Linked DNA regions of Homo sapiens. The protein of the gene in region 2 purifies or fractionates together with the protein of the main gene of each other region. This does not show direct contact. Each region holds a gene or a part of one and is shown on either strand. Other genes may lie near its edges. The genes, in order: KIF26B, KATNAL2 and DIAPH3.

Region 1 (3,655 bases), on a different chromosome or scaffold from region 2:
ACTCAGTGTGGTCCACACACAGCCAACATTCTCCCAGGTGGCTCAAGAATCAAATACAGCTTATTTTATGTATAGCTCAAGGTGATTTCTCAGCCTCCTGCCTCCCATCCCACTTTATGTCCAAAGAAGGCTTAGTCCATTGGGCAGCCTTCTGCCTGCTCTGCAGACACGCCTCTGGCAAATTCCATCAAGACGCTACTGCTTCTGTCTCAGGGTTAGCACTGGGCTCTCCTTGCCTAAGTCCTGGGGGGTTTGAAAGATCCTGTGTGCCCTACAGCAGCCCTGTCCTGCCACCCCCTCTGGCCCAGGAGGAGCCCCCCGCCCCCCGCAGAGTTGCTGGGGACCACCCTGGAACAAGTGACAGCTGTTGGAAGTGTGGTTTTTCAATTTTAGTTTAGGAGAGAAAACTGATTTCCAAATACTTGGGTTCACTGTGCTGCTGAATAACAACATTCACGGCCCAGGTGCCCACCGGGAGGCACGCTGCCCCGAGGGCTGCAAAGCCCCATGTTAGCACTGCCTCCCGGAGCTCCCACGAGCCCTGACTCCGGCCCCGAGACAGAAATGAAAGCAACAGGGCACAGCGAATAATGCTATCTTTCTGCTTCTGTGACAAGTCTCAGGTGCTAAACAAAGAGAAGGACATTTCCCAGATCTCCAAGTTAGTCCACAAAACCGACAGCTCTGATGGCTCGCAGAGCTCTGTATTAGCGGGTGTTCAGGGGAAATACAAAACATCATCGAGAGCCTGGTCCCTGTCTAGGATTTAATAATCAAATTGGAGACCAGACACACACACCCGGCCAAAGAACACCTAATAACATACCATGTGGTGACTGATACTCTATATGTTGAATGTATCTGTAGCAAAAGGAAGAAAAGGCAGGTTTTGAAAAGAGGAGCATGGGACGGGCGCAGTGGCTCACGCCTGTAATCCCAGCACTTTGGGAGGCCGAGGCGGGTGGATCACCTGAGGTCAGGAGTTTGAGACCAGCCTGACCAACGTGGTGAAACCCCCTCTCTACTAAAAAAATGCAAAAAATTAGCCAGGCATGGTGGCACATGCCTGTAATCCCAGCTACTCGGGAGGCTGAGGCAAGAGAATCACTTGAGCCCAGGAGGCGGAGGTTGCAGTGAGTTGAGATCGCACCATTGCACTCCAGCCTGGGCAACGAGACTGAAACTCCGTCTCAAAAAAAAAAAAAAAAAAAAAAATGAGGAAGGTGTGAATTGAAAATGAGGAAAGAGATCAGGAGAGAAAGCAGATATATATCACAAACCTCTTGCTTACGTGAGAACTACGGTGTTTCTCAAGGTCTCACTTGTGAAATGGTGGGTCACCTTTTTCCCTCTCATAAGCCTGGCCTGTTTAATAAACTCTATGTATACGTGTGTCAGCAGAGGGTGAGTGGAGAGTTTAAAGACCTTATCCGGGACCCCAGAATGGCAGATGAGGGAAGGGAATGAGGTTCATGAGCACACTGTGCCCCCATTCCAGCCTGCTCCTGCCTGCTCTACAGACGCATTCGCTGAAACGTACCACGGATTAGCAGAAGGGTGGTTTGCAGTGCATGTGCATAATGCTCAGGCTTGCAAAGGGCGGAAGGTCGCCAGGGGTTCTGAGCATCTCCAAAACTTCACGACAGAGGCCAACCCACCTGGGAACACAGTGACACTGGGACCCGAAGCCCCAGGAAGGTGGGCTCACTTTCGTTGTTAGTGGTGTCTCCGCTGCGAGGTCCATTCACGGCTCGTGTCTCCTCTTGTGTCTGACAGGCTGAAGTGTGTGCAGGCACCGTGGCAGAGGTGATCCAGTCTGTGGTCAACGGGGCAGATGGCTGCGTGTTCTGTTTCGGCCACGCCAAACTGGGTTCGTGAGAGTTTCACTTTCTCATGCGGCTCGTTGAGCTCCCTGTCATCCCATGCATTCCTCTGTCTCCCTCCCAGAGTTCTCTGATGACAGGAAGGGCTGCGTTTCTCTTAGGTGTTGAGCTGAATAACCAATAACAAGTTATACGACGAAAACCTATGTTGTTCATTGTAGGTGGACACCCATTCATGTAGGAAAGCCTTCAAGTCCAAATAGATGGAAAGAGAAGTAGCAGAGTTGTTCCCACTTGGTCCAGGTCAGAGTCAAGCCCAGAAGGCAGGCAGGAAAATATTCATTTCCTGAGCAGCCGCTGTTTGGGAAGCAGATAGGGCCCCTTGCACCACCGCACCCATGAGGATGTGGGTTGGTGGTTGGACCCCTGTAAAAGCCAGAGGAGCAACCTCCAAGCAAAGCCCAGAGCCCAGGGCGCGTCTGGAGAAAGCAGTGCACACCGTCGGGAACACTCCAGCGCTGAAGCGTCTGGGAAAGGAGGCAGCAGAGCCCCCCAACAAGGGGTTCATAAATCCCCCCACAGTCCCATCTTACTTCTGACCTGTGGCCATCTGCTCCCCAGGCCTTGCCCTTACACGCTTGATATGTTTAGTGAATTGAGGAGCTTCAAAAACTGTCCCTTGGCAGAGATTCCAACAGAGGCCTTGCTGGAGCTCACAGAGGCCAGTTCTCAGCCAGGACAGAAAGCCATTGCCTCTCTCTGCACTTCCGTCCTCCCCAGCCCTTTCTCTTGATCTTGATGTAAGCAGTGATCTGGGTTTTAATAGAATTTGCTCATGCCATAAAAATATACACAGCATTTAACTTGAGACAGGATATAAAGTGTGAATATGTGGACTTAATCTGGGGGGTAACTATAAAAAGAACCATAATGATGATGAAAAAGCCCAGCCTTCCCACTGTGTGTAAAGCAGTGCAGGAACTGGATAGCATGTGATATTTGGGGTCCTCCTCAAGGTACATGGTGATTTAATCTTGTCACATGTCTGGGCTCTTGCTTTGTTTCTTTTTTTTTTAAGAGATGGCTCTCAGTTGCCTGGGCTGGAGTACAGTGGCATGCTCATAGATTACTGTAACCTCCAATTCCTGGGCTCAAGTGATCCTCTCGCCTCAGCTTCCCAAGTAGCTGGGGCCACAGGCATGCCCCACCACACCCAGATAATTTTTAAAAATTTTTCATAGAGGCAGGGTCTCCGTATGTTGCCCAGACTGGCCTGGAACTCCTGGCCTCAAGCAATCCTCCCATCTTGGCCCCCACAAAGTGCTGAGGTTACAGGCATGAGCCACTGAGCCCAACCAGCATTCTTTATTGTAGCCATTTAGTTAGTAATACCAGAAAATGCCTTCTGTTGTTGTCAAATACTATTTCTCTCATCTTTTTGTTCCTTCTCTTCCCTTTTCCCCCCTTCCCTGTGCCTTTCTTCTATATCCTTGGCATCTATTTTGGAGACTCCGTGGAATGATGCCTGGACACTGAACCTGCTTTTCTTCCTTCCCTGGTTCTCCCAGGAAAATCCTACACCATGATCGGAAAGGATGATTCCATGCAGAACCTGGGCATCATTCCCTGTGCCATCTCTTGGCTCTTCAAGCTCATAAACGAACGCAAGGAAAAGACCGGCGCCCGTTTCTCAGTCCGGGTTTCCGCCGTGGAAGTGTGGGGGAAGGAGGAGAACCTGCGGGACCTGCTGTCGGAGGTGGCCACGGGCAGCCTGCAGGACGGCCAGTCCCCGGGCGTGTACCTCTGTGAGGACCCCATCTGCGGCACGCAGG
Region 2 (3,655 bases):
TGGCTGAAGAAAGAAGAAGCTTAAAGAACTACAACCTTGGAGAGTATGACCAAGAGCAATATGGTGCAATTCATTTCCAAATTACATGTTTTAATCTACCTTTTGACTACATCCACCCAATCTGGGTCTTTTCTGCTTAAGACATTATTATTTAGAAATCTAGACATGAGATTCATTATGAAAAAGGTAAAAATATCTATCAAGGACAAAATCAACCCTGTATCAACTGATGTTTCATGGTCCACATGAAATTACATTTAGACCAGGAGCCATCCCTCCAAGGAGAAAGGTGACACCACTAATCAAATGCCACTGACAGGACAGAGCAGAATGAGTATGCGTTTCCAACTCACTAAATAACGCAGATGTCCTAGCGCTTTGGGAAGCCCAGACAGGAGGATTGCTTGAGGCTAGAAGTTTGAAACCAGCCTGGGCAACATAGTGAGACCCCATCTCTAGAAAAATGAAAAAAATTAGCTGGATGTTGTGGTGCATGCCTGTAGTCCTAGCTACTTGGGAAGCTGAGGCAAGAGGATTCTTTGAGCCCAGGAGTTTGAGGCTGCAGTGAGCCATGATTGCACCATTATACTCCAGCCTGGGTGACAGAGCAAGACCCTGTCTCTTAAAAAAAAAAAAAAATGATGAGAACGATGCAGGATGATCATGCCAATGTTTGTCATTGTTATTACAGAATTTTTAAGCTGATGGGAACACTAGAGACAATCTCTTCCAAGCCCCTCAATTTACAAATGTGGAAACTGAGTTCCTTAGAGATGGGGCAGTTCATGCCAGCCCATTCATTCAGAAAGGAGATTCCAAAGAAGAACCCATTTTCTGACGCTCTTCTCCATTTACCTCACAGCCAACCTTCAAAAATCACATCTTAACTTTCCTGTTTGACAAAAATAATGTTTTTTGTTTTCATGTTTAAAAGGAAAAAGAAATTACCACTTTCAGTGTTAGGTTCATGAGTTTCACTTACTCTTCGTGGGTGGGCATTTTCCTCTCCACTGTCTTTACGGATTCTTGATATATGTAGGCCGAAGTTGGCACTTTCCAGGCGAGTGTTATCAACTACCTCCTGAAGAAAGAGAGACAAGGACACATCGGCTGTGAGCAGCCATGGAGAGTTGCTGGATGTACCTGCCTACTCCATCAAGCAAAGTCCGATGCTGGATAGCAATTCTGTGAACGCGACATGCACATGTAGCTTAGCCACATTTGTGCAGACCCAGGAAGATGAAGTAGCTGTCTGCCTGCACTATGTGGAAAGAGTTGTCCCTGGAAGACTGAGAAGATGCCAGGCCCCATGGGCCCCAAGCAGCTTTTCCAATGTGCTTCAAACAGTTGTGCCTCAACCCATCCCCATTCGCTGGCTCGTCTTTTCTCCTGTGATCAGGGGTGTTTTTGGCCAGGAGTGGCTGAGTTTGGAGATATGGCAGAGTCAACTAGCCTCCCATGGGACTCATCCTGCCCCACCTTCACCTCTCTTCCACATGAGTCAGGCTGCAGCGGCCAGAACCGTAGGACCTCCTTGAGGGGGAGAGAATCCTTTTGACCAATCGGATATTGTGATTATACCTTTCCGTTATTTGACATTAATTTTTTTAATTCCTTTTCTCAGTTTCCATTGGTCCTCTTTCCTTTGAAACCTGGGATGTTTAGTCCTAACTAAGAAGGTTCTGGACATGAGCCTCCTGAGTCAGGAGCCATTGACTTCTCTCACCTGCTGGATTCTCTCCTTGCTGCCCTTCTTGGCCCCCAGGAAGTCCAGCATGAAGGTCTGGGGTGAGGGCTGACCATGTGCGATTTGGAGGAGCCCAACAGGAGACCTTGAGACCCAGCCATACCTGAAATGTAGTGTAGGCTATGCCTGGCCTACACTTAGGAACCTAGCAATGTGCTCTGGGATGGGAAGACCTGCCATCTTGGTTAGCTCAGTTACCTCAGGTAATAGTTACCTCAGATGGGAGGATCAAGGCAACCAGGCCTTCCCGCTCTGACTGGGCCCTGGCCCCACCCTGGCCAATCACCCAGCACCCAGACCAGGGGAAAAACTTGGAGGAGAAAAAAGTCCTCCCACTCAAGTTAAGAAACATTAGGAAATCTAGGGATATGTCCATGGTTTTAGTCCAGTGTACTGGAAGAAAACCTAAAATTCAATTAGATCACACAGCAATTTTAAAAGCGTAGGTCCTCAAAAAATAAATAAATGTGACCTTTTTCATAGGGCTATTTTTCAGCCAAGTGTGCTGTTCACAAAGTCAAGCCAAGCCATCCTGACCTGATTAGGATGCTCCTTATTGAGCGATTTGGTGTCCCCTGTCTTCCCCGCTGTGGTTTTGGACCGGGGCCTCTGCTGATTGATCTTGGGAAGATTTTGACAACTGTCGTTCATCATCCTAAGGGAGGGAACAAAGACCTTGGAAGAAATTATTCTAGCCACTTAATTTGAGGTAGTTAAACAACTATTCTTAAGAATAGCACATTTAAGAAAGCTATTGAAAGATATGCAGGTGGCAACTATAGGGCCCTTCCACCTATGTGATCCACCCACCAGGTCCATCCTGGCCCTAACACCCTCCAGGCTACTCACTGGGTTCTTCTAAGATTGCCTCCTCGAGCCCCCCAACTCACCCTCTTCATTTCCCTTTCACACCACATAGCTTCGGCCCTTCTGCAAATAGCTTTAGTTCTTAAGAATACATTACTTTACAAGCATTCTTCCATTGTTCCTTCCACCTTCCTTAAAAGGAGCATTAGACCAGGAGAAAGGTGTGAGAGAGAAAGGAGTCCTCCCATTCAAACTAAGAAACAGTAGGAAATCCAGGGATTGGCCCCATGGTTTTAATCCAGTGTCCTGGATATACCCTGCCTACTTAAAATACCTCTCAGCATGTTATGAGTAATAAACATCAAAAGGGGATTGCAGAAGGAAAACAAACTTCCCTTCATCAATGTTGTCCCAGACCAATCATATTTGCCAAACAAATTTTCATCAACAATTGTTTACTTCAGACAAAACAAACTGATGGGGCTGGAAGTCAGAAGAGTAGCTAACTCTGATGGAGATGGGGAGAATTTGACTGAGAAGGGGCAAAGGTAGCTTGCCGGTGGCTGTAACTGTGGTTACAAGAGTATATACATTTACTGTATACATAGTTATATATGTGGTATGACTGTATATATGTTATATATCCATAGAAAGATCAAATCACTTTTTTCACTACATCCTCATAATTAGATATAAAATTCAGTATTGGAATATCCATATTTTTCTGTAGAAGATGCCATCCAGAGAGAGACAGGACTAGCTTGTGGGGGCAGAACATGAACTCCCACATTGTTGCTTAGTTCTCTTAGCACTTTTGTCCCCATATGTGAGATGCATTTGCAGAAGGTTCGTTAGAAGCAAGTCTCCCCATGTTCAGAGTGATCTCAGAGAGCTGCTATTTCAACTTCCTTTCTTTATGGGGATAATAAATGTTCATGTCTAATATAAATGCACAACTATTTGGCCAGCAAGACCACACATGTCGATAACACCACCAATGTCCACATGGTGACACATCTGTGAGTGTTGGTCTCACTGGGGAGAGCGTCATGAGAAGTGGACACTAACAGTTCTTGGGGTTTTTTTTTTCTATCTTTAAAC
Region 3 (3,078 bases), on a different chromosome or scaffold from region 2:
TGCCCAAACTATCTAGTTGAATTTAAGTTTTGTTTCTGAAAAACCCAAGTCTGCAAAATCACATTAAGAACTGATAGTGAGAGTTCTTTCATTTAAATTCTTTCCTAAACAAAACAATCCTGCCTTGTTGTTAGGGGTGCCGTCAGCTTAAATATGTAAATGTCCTTCACCTTTCTTGATTTTTAAGGTTTGTTTTCAGAAAAACAGGAATTGCAACTGGATGGCAAAATGCACATTTCAGCAATACATACAAATTCACATTTATTCCTACACTGGCTACAGAGAATACTCTGTTCTCCAATGTCTATAAACAGGGCCTGGCTCATAGTTCTAATTAATTAACTTTATTAACTTAGAGCTGAAAGGAGGTGGCAACTTAAGGAAATAAAAAGCAATAGACCTTGCCCGACTAGTTCCATATAACTGCTTTTTAACTGAAGGTAAAAGAACAGTCACTTACTTATTACATGTAATAAAGCAAAATAGATGCTTAGACAGACTGCATAGCACAGTCTATTCTCAGCTTATCCACAGAATGTTTTCAAAAAAAGAGAGACAAAAGAAAGCATTTTTTTTCATTTAGTGCAAGTAGCAAGTTTATTTCCTTTGATATAGAATTAACAGAGTAATGATGCCCAAATGAGGTAATATTACATTTGCTTAGGAAAACTTTCCTTGAAACACTTATTTAGATCTTTGTTAAAGTTATTGATTGTCAGATCAGAGAAATTGCAATCCCAAGTTTATTCATAAAATAAAAAAAGTTGTTACTTTGGAAATTTCAAAATGGCAATTTTATCTCAGAGTCATAATTACAAGGGGAAAAATACTCTCTTAGCCAAGATCAAGAATTTCGGCAGCACTGCAATTCTGTTTACATCCACGTTACACAAAAGCACATGCATTTGGCAAAGAGAGTGCATACATTCTTATTGCATCATTTTTCGTTATGTGCTCAATTGCCTTATGGTCCCCTAGAGGGTCTACTTAACATGAATTCAACAATGATGATAATGGGGTCACCAGTCATTTCCTTACATATATAGCTCTGATGTATTCAATTACATGTTTTTGATGTTGTGCTGGTAGTATATAGATCCCAATTAAGGAGAAACTTGGGCCTATATAAACAATATATATGGAATATACATGGATATGTAAAGACTTGAGGTTGATGACCTGACATCCATTAATGTTAAAAATAGTAAAGTAAAAATTCCAGTGGCTTAGAAAGATGGTATTTTCTTAAGGACACACTGCTGAACACATGGCCACCTACCTGCTCTCTAAAGCAATATGTATAATTTAACCACCAAATAAAGAACTGAGGAATACCAGGAGACAAAAAAAAAAAAAAAAGGATTAAAGCCCGGTACAATCTTGAATAAACCAAAACCTCCAGTACATAGAAAAAGCATTGCAATCATATATTTAGCTTTATTTTTCTAATATATATCATAATTTAAAACTATATAAAGTCACTTACATAAAAGCAATTTTTTCAAGTGTTATAGTTTAGAGCATGGCTTTATATTTGGCTTAATCATTTTTTTTAAAAACCAGTTTAACTTATAAAGCTCGTAATCTTGCCAGCAGGGCTTCAACTTCGGGAACTGATTCATTTTTAGAAAAAGAGCCAAGAAGTTCCGTTTCCTTTTTTCTGTTGCTTTCTACATTACACGCTTCCTTCTTCTCAGCTGCCTTGATCCTCCCAGTAGACGTATGAGTGTCTAGATTATAATTAAGCTCCTTGGCGACTGGAGTCCTTGTTGAGTTGCAATTGATATTGTAGTGTGAACGTGACCCTTCTGTCAACTGCACTTTCTGATTTTCTACAGTAAGGAAAAAAGAAACATAAAACTTATCACCATGATAACCAAGGACTGTGCACGTTATGAAACACATTTAAAATAATTATTCTCAATAAATAAGTAGTCTTCTTAGATAGACTAAACAAAGAAACAGTCAACAGAGTAAGACAGGTTTAAAATAATCACACAGGGGTTTAAGAATAAACTAAAATATAACAGCCAACCGTTTCATTAGCACTAATGCCCATTTCCTTCTTCCTTTATGCCTGACATGCCTGTCACGTGGTTATTATCAGGGCCTGGTCCCATATTTCTTTCAGGTCTCTGTTCAAACACCACCTAAAAAGAGAGGCCTTCCCTAGCCACCCATCTAAAATAGCATTTGCCCTTTGCACTGCTCTATCCTTCCCCGTCATGTTTTCCTTCACAGGGCACATGATGGCTGGACACACAATATATTTGCTCACTTGTCCATTGTCTGTCTTACTAGAATGTGTGCTCCAAGACAGTAGGGACATTATTTTAAATACTGCTGTAACTTCAGGGCCTAAAATGGCCCTGGTGCAAAGTAGGTCCTCAATAAATATTTGTTGGATAAATAAATAATTTCCACACTCTGTGACACAAGATTAAACATTAGCTTGAATAATAATGAGATTAATTTCCTTTTTGAATGAAATCAAGAAGGAAAGTTTCTAATAAGAATTTAAAAAGTCGATTATTTTCCTTTAAAGAAACAATGAACTTGGCAAGCAAATAATTAAAACTTCCTAGCAAACCAGAATGTTATATGTAATTGTCAAGTATATACACATCTATACATACATGCATGTACATATATACATACACACATACATTCTTTTATTGGTAAGTGATGGTAATGATGACTTTTAAAAAACAGACACCCTCAATATTCATGTAACCTTGAATGGGGCTTGAAAATGGCTTCAACAAACCTGACATGACATTTAAAGTTTTTTGGTTATTCTCTGAGAGATGTTCCATTGTCCCAATAGTAATGACTTTGGAGCACAAGCAGTCACTCATGACAGTGTGTTTTATGTGAGTGCTGAAAATTCCAACTGAAAACAGCTTGTACATTAAAAGGTGGCTGCTGAAGATATTTACTGCACTGTCATTTTCTGACCAGAGGCTTCCAGTGATGGATGAGGATTTTACACACTTTCTTGGACAATCTCAACAAATTTTAGAAGTATGATCACCTTTTAGCTGCTGGAAGAAAATAAATACACTTTGTCTTTCACCT

What was found.
Region 1: the proteins of KATNAL2 (region 2) and KIF26B purify together in Homo sapiens (tandem affinity purification; one large-scale study listed by IntAct). This does not show direct contact.
Region 3: the proteins of KATNAL2 (region 2) and DIAPH3 purify together in Homo sapiens (tandem affinity purification; one large-scale study listed by IntAct). This does not show direct contact.

The regions. Positions count from the first base shown.
Region 1 is NC_000001.11:245,605,875-245,609,529, forward strand, and holds part of KIF26B (kinesin-like protein KIF26B), read left to right. Parts: intron 1-1,776; coding exon 1,777-1,870; intron 1,871-3,391; coding exon 3,392-3,654; intron 3,655-3,655. UniProt on the Homo sapiens protein: Essential for embryonic kidney development. Plays an important role in the compact adhesion between mesenchymal cells adjacent to the ureteric buds, possibly by interacting with MYH10.
Region 2 is NC_000018.10:47,056,982-47,060,636, reverse strand, and holds part of KATNAL2 (katanin p60 ATPase-containing subunit A-like 2), read right to left. Parts: intron 2,403-3,655; coding exon 2,285-2,402; intron 1,082-2,284; coding exon 983-1,081; intron 1-982.
Region 3 is NC_000013.11:59,665,015-59,668,092, forward strand, and holds the end of DIAPH3 (protein diaphanous homolog 3), read right to left. Parts: intron 1,833-3,078; coding exon 1,570-1,832; 3' UTR 569-1,569; downstream 1-568. UniProt on the Homo sapiens protein: Actin nucleation and elongation factor required for the assembly of F-actin structures, such as actin cables and stress fibers. Required for cytokinesis, stress fiber formation and transcriptional activation of the serum response factor.